Linked DNA regions of Homo sapiens: region 1 is linked to region 2. The links come from fine-mapping of genetic effects on plasma protein levels. A gene starts in region 2. The other region holds a variant in brackets. All regions are shown on one strand. Distances are between the middles of the regions.

Region 1 (2,500 bases), 320 kb before region 2:
ACATGAGTTGGCTAGAGGCATTCAAAATGAATTGTGTTTTCATTATCAACCAATTCCAGAAAGAATCCCTCATCGTTTATGAAAAAGGATGAAAAAAATAAAATTTTGCAATTTTGTTGAGGTGATATTTCAACTTTCTCCAGTGGAACAGAGGTAGAGGACTGTATTCCACTTCTTTGTTAATTTTATCACCTTATCATTATTATTTTTACTATAAGTTAGTGCAACTGAAAGGATGATTTGCAGACCAGCATCTTCAGCATCACCTGAGACCTTCATAAAAATGCAGATTCTCAGGCTCATTCAAGACCTACTGAGTCAGAATGGCTGGTGGGGTCTGGCTCAGGAATCTGTGTTTTAACAAGCTCTCTGGATGATTCCTATGTACACTGAAGTTTGGGAAGCACTGCTTTGGACAATGAGGGAGGCACTCAAAAGAAGATAGGAGTGCAAAGTAGGCAAGCTTTGTTCTTCTTTCCTACTGAAGCTAAGTTAAAAGACAATTACTTAGAGACCAAAGGAAGACTCTCCTGGTCTCCAGAGGAGGCATAATCCTGTTGGAGAGCAACCTTATACAAATAAGGAACCGTCACTTCCAGAATCACATTTTTCGTAAGCAGGGTGGGGATGGGGATCACATTCGCTATATTATAGGGCACCAAATCCTAATACAAGTGTATTACAGTGTTCAAGACAAATTTTGCATTACCAACACTACGGCTGCCCTCCTTTAGTATGAATATTTATAGATAAACATCACAATAATTCCTACATTTCTGGTCTAAGTTGCTAATATTGTATACATTTATGATATGGCTGACTTACTTCACAAGTGTTTATCAGCACATTTAACCTGGAGGCCTCACCCACCACTTACAGACAAAGCAGCTGTGGTTCCAAGAACGAAATTTTATGTATAAATAAAGTGTAATTTTTACTTGTAAATGGTAGGTTCCAACTTAGCAGTTAATGACTAAAGAGTAATGATCCTAGAATTGGAGTTATAGAAGTAGCAAGCCCTTCTCCTGGGAGCAGGGCAAAGTGGTTCCTACGAAGCTAGAATGTAAACTTAGGACAGTCCAGCAGTAACACTTGCTTTCTGAATATTATTAACCAGGGGAATATTGGGGTGAAAATCAAACTAAAAACCTAAAAAATATTATGTATGACATTGTAGCAATTAATAAAATTAGGGGAGCTATTACCATCCTACCATTTTAACCTTCAAAGCCTGAGGATACACAATGAGATTGAGATAAATGAAACCATTATCTGGTGAGTCTGACCAATTTAAAAATTGGACCACTTATTATCTTCCCTGTAGCTATTCTATAGCCCAACTAGCATTATTTTTAAAAAATGTTTTCTTATTTCTACAATTATTTTTTATGAAAACAAAAGAAATA[C/T]ATTTTTTGTCATCAATGATGACACTTTTAATACTTTTATTTAATCTATCTACCAGCAAAGAAATATCCTAATCTTGAGGGGAAAATAGTTTTATTTTTCATTTTCAGTAGACATCATAACAGCTTTAGATTAGATCCAGATGATTAATCATTATTTTCATTAATTATTCAAACAAAGATGTTCATATATATTTCTCCTTCCTGACAACAAAAGGCCTCTTAGTAAACTTGATTAATTTGTTTTGACTCCAAATTAAGTGAAGTATAAAATAAACAGTAGTTGTTTTCAGCAACTTGAAGAAAAATTAAGAATGAATAGACTAAAAATAATACTAGAAAAAGCATATTGTTTAAAAAAATTGTTGAAGCTTTGTTGTTAACACAAAGACAAAGATGCCTTAGAAAAATGTTATGGTAATTTGAAAGTTTTCTCAATTTATATTGTCAGTGTGTAAATTTGAAGCAATATAATGGCTGAAATTAGGAACGCTATACTCATAATCACAACAGTAATACACATTGACTACAGAGAGGACATTGAACAGAGTTGGAACTCCAGTATATAAATCAAGTACAATATGGAAAACAGTTATCAAAAACTTGATAAAATAATTTGGGGATGATGTGACTGCACATAAAAAGTTAAATAATTAATATGAAAGAAAAACCCCTTTTGTAAATTAAAAAAATTCTCTAAGAAAGCAGAGGTATTTTTGAAATTAACAGTCACACACAATTTCTGATGGACAATGCAATTTTTGTTTATATAAATGCACCAGACAAGGATATATTCAAAAGCTTGGTGTATATGTACACACACACACACACACACACACACACACACACACACACACTATTTTTCTTTGCCCCTGTATAAGTAGTGATGTTTAAATTATTTAGCTGATTCAAGAATTCTTTTTAATTATGAAAACGGTATCTATATGCTTGTAAGTAATTTATGGTTATTTTCATCTCATATAATTGAAAAGAGTAAAATGAAAATGTTAATAATAACAAAAATGTGTAGTGTATATAATTTTTTTTTTAGTTTTATGTGATATTTTTTTAACCTGCCTTAAGTCATGAAAGCCAGC
Region 2 (3,029 bases):
AAGGATGTTTTATTTATTTATTTATTTATTTATTTATTTATTTATCTCTTGCTGAGAAGCAAACCAGCATTGAGTTTAGCTATTCTCAAAACTGATTTTCTGGGTGACACTTTAGTTTAGTCGAACATAGACGGCGCCATCACTCCACAGATTTTTCCCCCCAATAGAAGACCCACTGCCTTCTCTTAACTTCCTTTTAACCTAAAATTTTCCCCTCATAAAATTACCCCAATCACACAAAACTGCCAGATTTTCTAGGTCTCTCCGCTTATTCCTTCTGACCCAGCACATCTCTTGAAAACCAGACTTCTCTAACTTTTCAACTGCGGCGTTTAAGTAAATGCAGACAGTCGGATCTGCTCACAGCCTCCCCATCCGCCAGCAACAGCCTTTCCTTTCATTTTCCTCCCTTCTCAAACATTAAGCCCAAAGCTCCACGGTGGCGACCCCCGGCAGAGAAAAGGTGACCCCTGGACCCCCTTCCTTACCTTCCACTCCGAAAGCTCAGGGAGGCTCTTGCTCTAAGACACCAGCACAGGCACGCGTCCCAGCAACAGTGACGGAGAGACTCCCCTTCGGTCCCAATCACCGTTGCCCATTTTCCCCGGCTCAGCTTCCAAAATCAGGATTTATTTTTAAAAATGCATACATACGAAAAGCAAAAGGTGGGGGGTGGGAACCAAAGGGGGGTCGATGAGAGAGAGGAAAAAAAAGCCAGCAGGAGCCCAGAACCTTGCGCCGTATCCAACTGAATCCAACCTCCAAACCGAGGGGGGCTAAAGGGAGGGAGAAGCCCCCCCAAGGGAGACTCTAAGGAACCCCCCAAAATGTAAGTGGCTTAATAGCAAAGATTTGTTTCATAAAAGCTACCCCCAACAAACCAAGAAGCAAAGAAAGCGCTGAGACGAGAAGTGACCGGCGGCGGCGGCGGCTGCTATGGCAGATTTGTTGGGGCGGTGGGTTTATTACAGGAGTATTCGTGGTCGGATCGGAAGGCTCAAGCTTATGCTTTTTCCTCTTTCCGCTTTCCTCCCTCCTCCTCCTCCCCCCTGCAGGTACTGATGGACGGACGGCGACTAAGGAGAGCGGGGAAAAAAATCCTTGGCTGGTGATGTCGGAAAGCTGTTTGAATGCCCAGCGAGGAGGGAGGCGCGAGAGGGAGCGAGATAGTAAAGCTCTGTCTCGGGTGTGCGCGCCGGCGCGCAGTGCTCGCTCTCCCTTGGGCGCGCGCGCGGGGGGTGCGCGTGTCCCGGGAGCGCGTCCGCGCGGCGGCCTCCCGCGTGCTCGTGTGCGCGCGCGTCCCGGGTGCCGCGCGCCCTTCTTATGCACAGCTGCGGTGCGCCCCGCCGCCCGCCAGAGGCTCGGCTCGCGCGGCGCGGCCGCTGCGACTTCCTGGAGTTCTGCCTGCCGGGGGCGCGGGCGGGTGTGTGAGAGAGAAGGCGAAGGGAGCCGCGGGGTGGGAGAGGAGGGAGTCCCGGCGGGAGGGCGGGGGAGAGGCTGGCGGGAGGGGGGCTCCACGGAGCTCCAGCCAGGGCCGCGGTTCGCCTGCACGTCACGGCTACTCAAACCCAAGCACGTCCCGAAAGCGGTATTTTCTGCGTCTGGGAGGTTTTTGCATCCTCAGTTCCCACCGCTGGGGCTGGCGGCGACCAACTGTAAGAGAAACTCACTGGGAGGCGAGGCAGGGGGGTGCGGAGGATGGGAAGGCGACTCTGAAGGGTGGGAAGTGAATGCTGGACTTGATCGTCTTTCTCTTTCTTTCAGCGCAGACCTGTCGCAGCCAGAGAGCTGTCATTTCAGTACCGGGATTCAGAATTGATCCAGTCCGCAGCGGAGGGGGCACATCCCAGCTACCGAGCTGCTGAGTGTCTCTGGCTGGAACAATAGTATTTTTTTCTCTGCGAGGCTGCAATTAACATCTTATTTGTTCTGGCTCCATACAGGCTTTGTCAGGATCGCGGTGCGGCGACCGACGTTGGGCTCTTGCATTGCTTTGTGCTTGGCAATGGAATCATGGTTTCGGGGTCTAAACTTTTGTTTCGTTTTGTAGTCTTAATGTATCTGATTCTTTTTCAAGTTTCCCTAGTAACAGGTTTGGGGACGGGGTGGGAAGAAGCGAGAAAAGGGGTGAAGAGAAAAAACCAGATTATATAGAAAGGAAAAAGGGAAAAGGGATGTTTCCCCACCTTTTAATCTAACTATCTATCTGTCTGTCTATCTATCATCATAGATAGTCATTTTGCCTCCTGGACAGTTGGCTGACGAAGTGTCTGATAAACCAGCTTCAGATACATGCTACAAAAGGTCATTCGCCTCCTGATTATGTTTCTACTTGTAAACGCAGTTGGTGGTTTGCAAAACAAGTGCTAAAATAGTGCAGTGATGTGGTGGGAGGAAACCATAATGGGTAATTCATATAAAGTGCTGGAATCTTCGTAAGGGTGAGTTTCTCGAGCGGCAGGTGAAGTTGAATAAAGCAATTTTCCATCATTTGTTCCCCTCACTCTTGCATTTTTTTCCTCCGCTTGTTTCTCTCCCCTGGGGCGATTATGGATAGCCAAGAACACCATTTTAAAAGAGATTGATAGTGAAAACAGGAAGTTTATGGTCTGTTATCCACTGGAGTTGTTTGAAATATTAAAATTGGTCCTTTACTTCTTAATGCATATTAATAGAGTGACCCTCTTCAAGGCTTTCCCGTCTTAAACGAATGCCTGGGATAAACACTGTAAGGGGAAACAGTTAATAATTCCCCAGCAGGCTTTAACTATTTTCCCAGTAACAAATCACCGGCAAGAGAGCAGCCTGGGTGGCATTTTGGTTTTGTGTCATTTTGGTTCTTTACAATATTTTTTATTCATTTAAGGAAATGTTAAAAGGAAATAATTAGGGTTTATGTCCAGAACAAATTTTGAAACACCGTTTAAGCAACACATTTTCTTTTAAAAACAAAGAACATTGAGCAACACAAAGGAGAAAAACATTTTATTTATTTCAACTTCCCTAGAGATCGTAATTATGATTTTCGC

Direction of the effects. Alleles are on the strand shown, and positions count from the first base shown. The strength of an association depends on the size of the effect and on how common the allele is.
In carriers of allele T in region 1, the plasma level of the protein whose gene starts at base 1,207 in region 2 tends to be lower than with C alone (strong association).

Evidence for each region. PIP is the chance, under the fine-mapping model, that this variant and not a neighbour inherited with it causes the effect. Protein levels are from antibody-based Olink assays in UK Biobank. Linkage for the fine-mapping came from a reference panel and not from the study's own genotypes, which makes the PIPs less certain.
Region 1: its variant is fine-mapped to the plasma level of the ADGRB3 protein (UK Biobank, PIP above 0.99).

Annotation. Positions count from the first base shown.
Region 1 is chr6:68,958,631-68,961,130 of GRCh38, reverse strand. The region is part of intron 8 of ADGRB3 (adhesion G protein-coupled receptor B3); the gene reads right to left. Among named protein-coding and RNA genes, the nearest start is that of ADGRB3, 320 kb to the right of the region's middle. The variant C/T (reference allele first, on the strand shown) is at 1,407.
Region 2 is chr6:68,633,460-68,636,488 of GRCh38, reverse strand. ADGRB3 (adhesion G protein-coupled receptor B3) reads right to left here and starts at 1,207. Exons shown (of 32, transcript NM_001704.3): 1 at 489-1,207. It overlaps LOC127898563, which reads right to left and starts at 599. Exons shown (of 1, transcript NM_001414704.1): 1 at 522-599. The coding sequence starts at 599. The coding sequence ends at 522. It overlaps ADGRB3-DT (ADGRB3 divergent transcript), which reads left to right and starts at 2,165. Exons shown (of 2, transcript NR_125872.1): 1 at 2,165-2,304. RefSeq lists a silencer at 1,259-1,468.